3 linked regions of the Homo sapiens genome follow. The protein of the gene in region 1 interacts with the protein of each later gene in a biochemical or structural test. Each region holds a gene or a part of one and is shown on either strand. Other genes may lie near its edges.

Region 1 (3,655 bases):
GGGCAGTATGTTGCCCAGGCTAGTCTTGAACTCCTGGCCTCAAGCCATCTCCCACCTCAGACCCCCAAAGTGTTGGGATTACAGGTGTGACCCTAGCACCCAGCCTATAAATGTATTTAAATACACAGAAGCAGTCTGGAAGGACCCACACCTAACTGATTTAACACCTAACTAATTTCACCCACATGGGTATTAACATTTTTCAGGTAAAGGAATTGAGGGACATAAAAATTAAACAGCAGGCCAGGCACGGTGGCTCACACCTGTAATCCCAGCACTCTGGGAGGCCAAGGTGGGCAGATCACAAGGTCAGGAGTTCAAGACCAGCTTGGCCAATATGGTGAAACCCCGTTTCTACTAAAAATACAAAAAATTAGCTGGGCGTGGTGGTGCACACCTGTAATCCCAGCTACTTGGGAGGCTGAGGTAGGACAATTGCTTGAACCTGGGAGGCGGAAGCTGCAGTGAGCCAAGATTGCACCACTGCACTCCAGCCTGGGTGACAGAGCAAGACTCTGTCTCAAAAAAAAAAAAAAAATTAAACAGCAAATCCAAGGTCACACAAGTATTAAGCTTTGGAAATGGATTGTAAACCATCATTACCTGGTTCCCTTAGGGAAGGAATAAAGAGTGAGTAGTGAAAAGTAAGTTCTGTTTGACCAAAATTACTTGAAAAAACAATTTTTTTTTTGGAGACAGAGTCTTGCTCTGTTGCCCAGGATGGAGAGCAGTGGCGCAATCTTGGCTCACTGCAGCCTCCACCTTTCAGACTCAAGCAATCCTACCACTTCAGCCTTCTGAGTAGCTGGGCCTACAGGTGCTCACCAACACACTCAGCTAATTTATGTACTTTTTGTAGAGACAGGGTTTTGCCATGTTACCCAGGCTGGTCTTGAACTCCTGGGCTCAAGTGATCCTCCCACCTCAGCCTCTCTAAGTGCTGGGATTACAGGTGTGAGTCACCGTGCCCAGCCCACTTGAATTTTTGATAATAAGAATGCCTTTGTTTAAGAATAAAAGAGAAATCTTTTGCAGCAACATGGATGAAACTGGAGGCCATTGTCTCAAGTGAAACGAATCAGACATATAAGGAGAAATACTGCATGTTCTCACTTAGAAGTCGGAGTTCGATAATGTGTACACATGGATGTAGATTGTGGAATGATAGACAATGGCAGCTGGGAAGGGTCCAAGGGGTGGGAGGGGGTAGATGATGAACAATTACTTAATGGGTACAATGCATGTTATTTGGGTGACGGATACCCTAAAAGCCCTGACTTTACCACTACACATCTATGCATGTAACAAAATTACCCTTGTACTCCATACATTTATACAAATCAATCCAGCAAACAAAAAGGATAAAAGAAAAAGAATGAACTCTTCCCTCCAAAAGAAGGGAGGGGCAAGGAACTGAACTAGCTAGGAGGTCGAGGCAGCAAAGGCTCAGATGAGGCCCCCTTACCATTGTCTGTAGCTATGATTAGGGCTGTGTACGTGCTGTTCTTCACGTGCTCAAAATCCTCCCTGTCCAGCTCAGCCCGAGTGGAAATGGCACCAGTGTCCGGATTAATCTCCAGCCAGTTGGCAGTGTCTCTCCAAATCCGATATCTGAACGGGGACAAGCTCTGGCTTTTAGAATAGGACCAGCAAACAACATGTAGCTGAAAACGGCTTAAGCGCTTCTTCAGTTATATGGTTACTTCCAACGTTTTTATTTTGAAAACCAACAATAGGCCGGTCGCGGTGGCTCATGCCTGTAATCCCAACACTTTGGGAGGCTGAGGTGGGCAGATCACCTGAGGTCAGGGGTTTGAGACCAGCCTGGTCAACATGGTGAAACCCTGTCTCTACTAAAAATACAAAAATTAGCTGGGTGTGGTGGCACACGCCTGTAATCCCAGCTACTGGGGAGGGTGAGGCAGGAGAATCGTTTGAACCTGGGAGATGGAGGTTGCAGTGAGCCGAGATTGCACCACTGCACTCCAGCCTGGGCAACAAAAGTGAAACCCTTTCTTTCTTTTTTTTTTTTTTTTTTTTTGAGACGGAGTCTTGCTCTGTAGCCCAAGCTGGAGTGCAGTGGCGCGATGTCGGCTCGCTGCAAGCTCCACCTCCTGGGTTCACACCATTCTTCTGCCTCAGCCTCCGGAGTAGCTGGGACTAGAGGCGCCCGCCATCACGCCCGGCTAATTTTTTTGTATTGTTAGTTGAGACGCGGTTTACACCGTTTTAGCCAGGATGGTCTCGATCTCCTGACCTCATGATCCGCACGTCTCGGCCTCCCAAAGTGCTGGGATTACAGGCGTGAGCCACCGCGCCCGGCCGAAACTCCGTCTTTAAAAAAAAAAAAAAAAAAAGAAAACCAAGAAAACCAACAATACAACAGACAAGTTACTATAATAGTATGATGACCATCCATGAACTCTTCACCTGAGTTTACTCATTGTTAATACTTTGCCACATCTGCTCTGTCTATATTGACACACGCCTACATAATTTCTTGTTCTGCTGAACCATCTGCAAATAAATTGCAGAAGTCATGTTCCTTTACTTATAAATATGTCAATGTGTTATCTCCTAAGAACAAAGGCATTCTGTTATATAACCCCAATTTGATTTTCTTTTTTTTTCTTTTCTTTTTTTTTTTTTTTGGGACAGAGTCTCGTTCTGTCGCCCAGGCTGGAGTACAGTGGCGTGATCTCAGCTCACTGCAAGCTCCACCTCCCAGGTTCATGCCATTCTCCTGCCCCAGCCTCCTGAATAGCTGGGTCTACAGGCACCCGCCACCACGCCCGGCTAATTTTTTGTATTTTTAGTAGAGACGAGGTTTCACCATGTTAGCCAGGATAGTCTCGATCTCCTGACCTCAGATGATCCACCCATCTCGGCCTCCCAAAGCACTGGGATTGCAGGTGTGAGCCACCGTGACCAGTCTTGATTTTCAATTTTAGGAAACAAAACTTTGATAGAATTCTATTGTCGAATATATGGTGCATATTCGAATTGTCAGATTTTCCAAAAATGTCCTTTATAGCAACCTTGCACCCTTCTGGATTCAGGATCCAATATGGCCTTTCGTTGGCATGGCTCTTCCTTAGGTCTTTCTTTTCTGTCACTGACATTTTTGAAATGTGCTGGCCGTTGTTTTGTAGCATGCCCCTTAACTTGGGTTTGTCTGATTATTCCTCAAAATTTAGATTCAGGTAATCCATTTCAGGGGTCGGTGGGGGCAAGAACAGGACAGAGGTGATGCTGTGGCCTCCCTAGTGCAGGACACTGGGAGGCACATGATGTCTGTCTGTGCTTCTATTGATAACTTTGATCACTTGGATAAGGGAAAGGCCACCAGATTTCTTCACAGCAAAGGTGCCTTTTTTCACTGCATGATTAACCTATAATCTGCAGGTAGATAATTTGAGAATATCTTGTTCAGCAACTAATTTTCACCCAATGGATTTGGCATCTGTGGATGATTCTTGCTGAAGCAATGATTACTATAATCCTTATTTATTTTTAAAAGCAGACTCCTGCAGACCAGCTCCCCCAAACAATACAGTAGTTCCTAAATGGTGGCAACATGCCACCTCCTCTCCTGTCATGAACATCTGGAGATGCAGGTTGCCCTGTTGACCTGTGGGTGGACTGCACTATTGCC
Region 2 (3,287 bases), on another chromosome or scaffold:
CTGTCCCTATGACTTCTGGTTCTTATTTTCTTGACACACACATTGTCCTCAGCCTGTGTGGGAAGAAAAAAAATAGAACTCTTAAGTAATTTAAACACCCATTTTTAGAATCGACCTCCTCTGCAAAACCCCAAAGGCTTACTAGGTATTATGCAGGTCCTTAGTTGCAGAAAATTAATTTTGAGGTTGGAAATAAGTTTTAAAATATATTCCATTAACATTGTTTTTCTTGACTTGAACTGCTTTTATTATGCAGTTTTTTTACACTTAAATAATGTGATCTTTTCATACAGAAGTTCCTAATGCATTTTTAAGCTAATTCATAATAAAATTTCTTCATCGATGCACACATTTTCACAAACTAAAAAATGTCACTCAGAAAAAGTGAATCCAACCAGGATTAAGTCTTTTGGGTCTCCTAAACCAAGGAACCCCTGTAGACAGAAGCATGCCCAACTTGCATGCAGGAGACCTGCCTTGGCCTTTACTCTTGCAGTAGTTCTCACCCCTTGGCTAAGGGAGAGGAACCATGGTGAAAAGCATGGCTACAAGCTTCTTACTGGAAAAAATCTATCTTATATATGCATTTTCTAGGACTACCGACACCCACCGAAGAGCTCGGCAAAGAGGAGCATGTGTGTGTTGGGCGTCTCCTGGGTGCTTGTGTGTGAGAAGAGGCTGGAACGCCCCCGGCAGAACACACCAGGCCTGGCTCAGCCTTGGGCCTGGTTGCTCTGTGTTTAGGAATCATCCTAGTTAAAAGATTCGCTTTCACCCTTCTTTGGTTTCATTCTGAGGAAGCAGCACCTTCCAGACTGTGAATTCGGTAAGCGCCTGGAGCCTGCGTTTTATTGTAAGACTCGACGGGTGAACGTGCTGACCCACGTCAGCTGTTGCGTCCCTGGTGTGCCTGTGGTTTCTAGGACCTTGTCTGGCACTGTCGGGTGTCTTCTGCTTCCAGCCTGCCCCAGAAGTACAGTCTCTGACTTAGGACACCTGTGTGGGCATCAGTGCCCTTCTTGAGCCTCTCCTCTTCCCTCTCTGGAACAGTCTATGGGCATCTCCCCACTAGGACTTCCTGCCCACCATCCAGACACACAAGCCCTCCCCCTCCACTGGCTGCCTGGCTATGCAGCAGGTACTGGGGACACCTGGGAATCTTTCCTTTTCTTGGCAGTTGAAGCTTCCTAGTTTGTGCCGAAGAGGGTCTGTCTGGACAGCTGTACTTGCCAGAATTCTGTATCTGAAGAGGTTATTGCTACATGAGTTTCGTTTGCTGAACTCAGAATATGGTAGTTTTAGGTCCAAATTTTGTGTGTGCTAAGAATTAAATTTATATTATATTTTTGTGAATTGCTCACAAAAAGGGAGCAATTCAACCTATTTTTATTTTAGCTAAACCAAGTATTCCCCAGAAGAACACTAATGGAATCTAATCATTCTTATGGATTTGTCCACATGCTTGTAATTATGAGTGGCTCAACTTGATGTGATTTCAGTAGCACTTAAAGTTCATTAGCTTAGATAGTCTCTGGCTGGAGGAGGGTTGGAGGGCAGACGCATCCCCCACTGACCAGGAACTCTCACATAGTGAGCATGTGTCTCAGGGACATCCCAACTTCTGTTCCTTCTGCCTTTCCAAAGAATGCCTTGGAAATTTTTCTGTTTCAATAGTTTTTTTTGGAAAAAGAATTTTCCTGTTTCAAGAGGTGATTTTGAACTACAGAAAGGCTGAAGACATCTACCTACAATTGTATCATGAGGTACATCATAAGCAGTCAGAAATTAGCCACTAGACAAATTCCTTTTCTTTCTGAAGAAAGTCTTCATAACGTGAATTTGCTATTTGAAGTGAAATTCCCAAAGTAGACACAACAAAATATAACTAAAATGACCAAATTTATGTCTTAGCATAATGCTCCTTCCATTAATGTAACTGGGAGCTGGCAGAGTGCTGTTGAAGATAATGCTTTTTGTTTGCCTTTGCAACCTTGGGCAAAAAATACATCAAAACATTCTGTGTCTTTTAAAACAGGGAAACAGTAAATGGCTTACCTTCTTTGGATTTTCTGCACACCTCTTGACACTCCGCGTTACTCTCTGCACAGATTTGCTCTCCAAAGTGCTTGCTGCAGGCTGGCTTTTTGTCTTTCTTGATCTCAGGCACATGGAGTCTGAATTTCCTGCTTCTCCTTTCCCTTTCTGATTCTGCATGAGAACCTTCGCACTCTTCTGCCCTCCGCTCTCCTCTGCCACCTTAGGCTGGGAGCTCTCATTCTGTCTAGCAGACCTCAAGCACCTTTTGTTCTCAGTGACTTTGTCTCTAGGTATGGGTTTCCGGGCTCCATCATCTGGATTCTGAATGTCCATCTCTGGGGAGGTCTTCATGGGCTTCTTTTCATTTCTGTTTATTTCTATTCTTTCTGCTAATACAAAGACCTCAGTTATTTGCTGTTCTGCCTCAGTCTTATTTTGGCGTCTGGAGCGCAGGGATATTCCCTAAAGAAATGAGAAGACATCCACAAAATTCCAATAATTAGTAAAACAAACTTCAAAATTCAACAGGGAGCACAATCAACAGTAACCTAAAAGGAGAAATCATTTGAAAATCACACACTGATGAATTGTCTAAGAGACTTGTCATCTAGGATAGTCAAGGTAATGCCTTGGTACTTTGCTCCTATGGAGAAATGACTGTCTCTGCTGACAAATTATAAATAAGGAATTCAGGATAAATTTCAATAACAATGCCTAATAAGATATATATCAAATCTAATTTTTACAGTTTACATTATAGAAAGAAGGTCCGTTATTCATTCATTTACAGGGAGTAAATGAATTCCTATTCCTTTAACCATCACTGCTAAGGCAGAACAGGAAATTGCCATTTCTGGAGTTTCCCCAAACTTCTCTGCATGCAGTGGGAGCCTCTCTATCTAACAGTCCAGACAGTTTCCCCTTCTCAAGAATACACATTCCTTATTGATATTGTTCTGATAGTTAAAATAGTGACATAGATAGGATTTTTAACCCAGTCCTGGTCTTGGTGACAGTATCCAGAACATAGAACTGAACCACCCACCTATCCTCTGATCAATTTTTTAAACATTTGAAGATGAACATTACTCATTTGGCTTTTGAGAAACTCTTCTAAGTTTGCATTAATCATGTTTGACTAGTTCTTTTCCCATATTAGTCTATTCCCTCTATAGGTCCCAAGAAGATTCTTTACCATGGCCTGCAGTTATTCAGTGTTAAAGGAAACCCTCTGGGGAAAGGATAACCAC
Region 3 (3,655 bases), on another chromosome or scaffold:
AAAAAATAAAATTAAAACAAAAATCAAATTTCACAAGTGACAACATTTGAAATTGTTATTGCTTCTAAATAGACATGACATTTGTGTGGAAATGAAGTTGTTGGTGTTTATTTGCCTTTTCAGTAGAATTTAAATTGGGCAGGATTTCACAGAAATACAGATTCAGTAACTTTCTGGGGATTAAAAGAAGAAAGGATTGGGAAAAGTGCCCTGGGCTTTGTTGTGGGAAAGGAGATCTGGCTCATTTTTAATTTTCCATTAAAGCCCTACTTTTCAATATAAAGCAGATGGAATCCTTATACAACTCCATGAAAAGCCTACTATTTTTGGATACCTCAAAGATGGAAGCTCTGAAGAAAATGAAAGTGTTTGACTTCATCAGATAAAATCCCACCAGCATATTCAAAAGGCACAGGTACTTAGAAACCTTTAAATTACAAGTTAAGAGGTCTTTCTGTGCGGATTTATGATCCCGGGCCCCTCTCAAGCTTCGGCACTCTCTGACTCTTGCTGACTGATGGTTTCTACCACTTCTCCGCCTGCTCCCACTACTCTAGTTGGGACTCCCTATGTTTGCTTCCTTCCTTGTCTTCCAGAGCTGCCTGCTGACTCTTCCCTTCTCACTGTTGTTCCCAGATACAGAAAAGATGAGAAGCGTTCAGCCCTGCCTGGCCCATACCCACTGAATCCAAATGAGGCCTGGGGATATGCATTCTATGAGATCTTCAGCATATTTGTGCTCTTTTCTTATTATGCGATAAGACCTGGTTCAATATATTCTGTTTGTCACTCTGCTGGGGTGGACAGGAGAACAAAAGGGCTGATGTTTACTGTGCAGAGTCTGTGAGATACTAGGCTGGGAGCTGCTGGGCACCACCTCCACCCTCACAGTTTACAATCTCATTAAAGAGATGGCGCAAATTTAGTGTGAAGAACATAGATGTTGGAGCCAGACTGCTGTGTTCAGATCCCAGCTCTGTCACTTACTCTGTGACGCTGACTAAATCACTTAGCCTCTGTGACTCAGTTTTTCCATCTTTTAAATGGGATAATAATGGTAGTACCTCCTAGAATTGTGCTGGGTGTTATGTTGACAAATCAATCATAAAATAGAGTCCCTGACTTCCAAAGAGCTCACAAGTCGGTGGGAAAGGCCAGTGCCTGCCCCACTGTCCTACCCAGCTGGTTCCCTCAGCCTTACGAATCAGGCTATGATGAGGATGATGATGAGGTGGTAATCAGGTGCTCTGGGAGCCCAGAGGTAAGAGAGATGGGAGGGCTTCTCAAGAGGCAGTAGGTTTTGAGGGGAGTCATCAGAAAGGGTGAGACTTCCACGGTGGGTAAAGGTGCCTCTGCATCCTGCAACACAGGACACAGAAGTAACTGCAAAGCAAAGGCAAGGAGGCAGGGAATGAGGAACCACAGCTCTGGAGCAAAAGCAGGAAAGAGTTTAGCAGTCACACAGACCTGGCTTCACTAGTTATTAGCTGTGTGACCATGAGCCATTTGCCTCTCTGAGCTTCAGTCTCCCCATTTGACTAATGGGTATAATAATACATGCCTCCTAGAGTTGCTATGATTAAGTACATGACTGTATGTAAGCACCTAACACATGCCTCCGAGTTCAATAAAATGGCAGGTGCTATTATTTCTATGGTGTATTCAGGGAGGAGTAGGTAGCTGTGGTATGCTCTCTACTTTTTTGCAGTATCACAGAAAGGAGAATACAAGGCCAGAAACAAGTAGTCCTCTAAAAAAGCTTTCTGAGTGCAAATAAGCAATGAGCTAGGACTTTCCCATGGTACTTTTTTCTCCCCCAAACTCTTACAGTTAATAGGTACTCAATACATATTTGCCTAAACCAACCAAGTGCTGCTCGAGGTCATGGGTTTACAAGGGCAGAGTATGTGATGATCTCTGCTTCCTAAGTATACCCAAGAAGGAGACCCAAGTCAGGCTTCACTTCCAGACGGAGGTGCACAGCAGGCTGTTCTGGAAGCAGGCTGAGACAAATGGGAAAGCGCTCTCAACCAAATATTACAACAACTCGGAGTCTTACAAACATTGTTAAAGTTTCATGAGTCAGTAAGCATTATCTTTTCCTCCCACGTTTTTATTAGACCATAAATCCAATTCAATTTATATTCTTCCAGGATTACTGCGTTCTAATCAAGTCCACAGTGTCACTTATTCCTAAGTTGTCTATATTGCATGTCACCCAAGTCCATTTGGATAATACCATTCAGGCTTCTCATGTGTTTTAGTAGCTAAAAATTAGATTTGCTCAACTAGAAACACTAAAAAAATTATTATAGTCCTCTAAATAACACAAATCACTCTTTTTTCATAGGAGCCAAATGTGTGAAAGTCATAACCCATAGTTTTTTCTTACTTTATAGTTCATTCTACCTTTAGAAAAGTCACAATGACATTCTGAAGTCAAACTCGAGGGATTTCCATTGTAAATAGGTTAAAATTCTGGTTATCTGACTAAAAGAAACCCTTTTACAGGGTTAACGTCAGAATGCTTTCATGTTTTCCGTTCTCAAGAATGAAGGTGCTGCATTTCTTACTAAAAATGCTGTTTTCAATCATACCATGTAAGTAAATTTCCCAACTTTTCTAACAATTTTTGATTCAGAACCGACAATCACCCAAATCTCTTTCTAAAATATTCAAAGTTTCCTTACATACACACAATATATTGTCATCATCCCTTCCCTAAAGCATGTATGTCATATGTGTATATATACACATACACACATACATATGGATTAACAACAGCAGCAAACACATAGCTTTTCCTATGTGTAGGACACTGTTCTGAATATTTGACATGTATTAACTCACTGAATCCTCACAGCAACCCTCTGAGGCAGGAACTACTATCTCCATTTAAAGATGAAGAAAAGGAGTCACAGAGAGACCAGGTAACTTGGCCCAGCCCACACAGCTGGAAAGGGTCAAACCCGGACCCTACCCCAACCTCATGCTTTTGTTTTGTTTTCTTTTGTTTTGAGACAGAGCCTCACTCTCTCGCCCAGGATGGAATGCAGTGGCACAATCTCAGCTCACTGCAACCTCTGCCTCCCAGGCTCAAGCGATTCGCCTGCCTCAGGCTCCCAAGTAGCTGGGATTACAGGCCTGTGCCACCACACCGGGCTAATTTTTGTATTTTTAGTAGAGACAAGGTTTCGCCGTGTTGGCCAGGCTGGTCTTGAACTCCTGACCTCAGGTGATCCACCTGCCTTGGCTTCCCAAAGTGCTGGGATTACAGGCGTGAGCCCCCGTGCCCGGCCCCAACCCCATGCTCTTAACCACACCACACACCTGGGCTGAGAGGTGTGAAACCTGGTGACTTTGCCATCTTGGACAAGTTGCTTAACCTCTTCATTTAACTTCATTTTTCCTCACGAGTAAAATGAACATGTTGACTACATGATCTCTAAGATTCCATGGCCTGTGCCCATGAAAAACCGCAAGAGTCCTTCATGGTTGTATGTTCTACAGGCTTTGATATGTGTTTTTACCCTGGCTGGGGAGCAACAGATTTCTAGACTTCTCCCCCTCTAGTTCTCCTGATGCTGCTTTGGGCAGGTTCAGATATCTTCAGTGCTAAATCCAACTGCATTTTTTGTTCTTTATGTTGCTCAAC

Evidence for each region.
Region 2: of the proteins of CDH1 (region 1) and MKI67, one has a biochemical effect on the other in vitro, tested with the Homo sapiens proteins (one study listed by BioGRID).
Region 3: the proteins of CDH1 (region 1) and FYN form a complex in vitro, tested with the Homo sapiens proteins (one study listed by BioGRID).

Annotation. Positions count from the first base shown.
Region 1 is NC_000016.10:68,817,236-68,820,890, reverse strand, and holds part of CDH1 (cadherin-1 isoform 1 preproprotein), read right to left. Parts: intron 1,612-3,655; coding exon 1,466-1,611; intron 1-1,465.
Region 2 is NC_000010.11:128,099,203-128,102,489, forward strand, and holds part of MKI67 (proliferation marker protein Ki-67), read right to left. Parts: intron 2,500-3,287; coding exon 2,056-2,499; intron 54-2,055; coding exon 1-53. UniProt on the Homo sapiens protein: Protein that associates with the surface of mitotic chromosomes and acts both as a chromosome repellent during early mitosis and chromosome attractant during late mitosis.
Region 3 is NC_000006.12:111,863,343-111,866,997, forward strand, and holds part of FYN (tyrosine-protein kinase Fyn), read right to left. Parts: intron 1-3,655. UniProt on the Homo sapiens protein: Non-receptor tyrosine-protein kinase that plays a role in many biological processes including regulation of cell growth and survival, cell adhesion, integrin-mediated signaling, cytoskeletal remodeling, cell motility, immune response and axon guidance.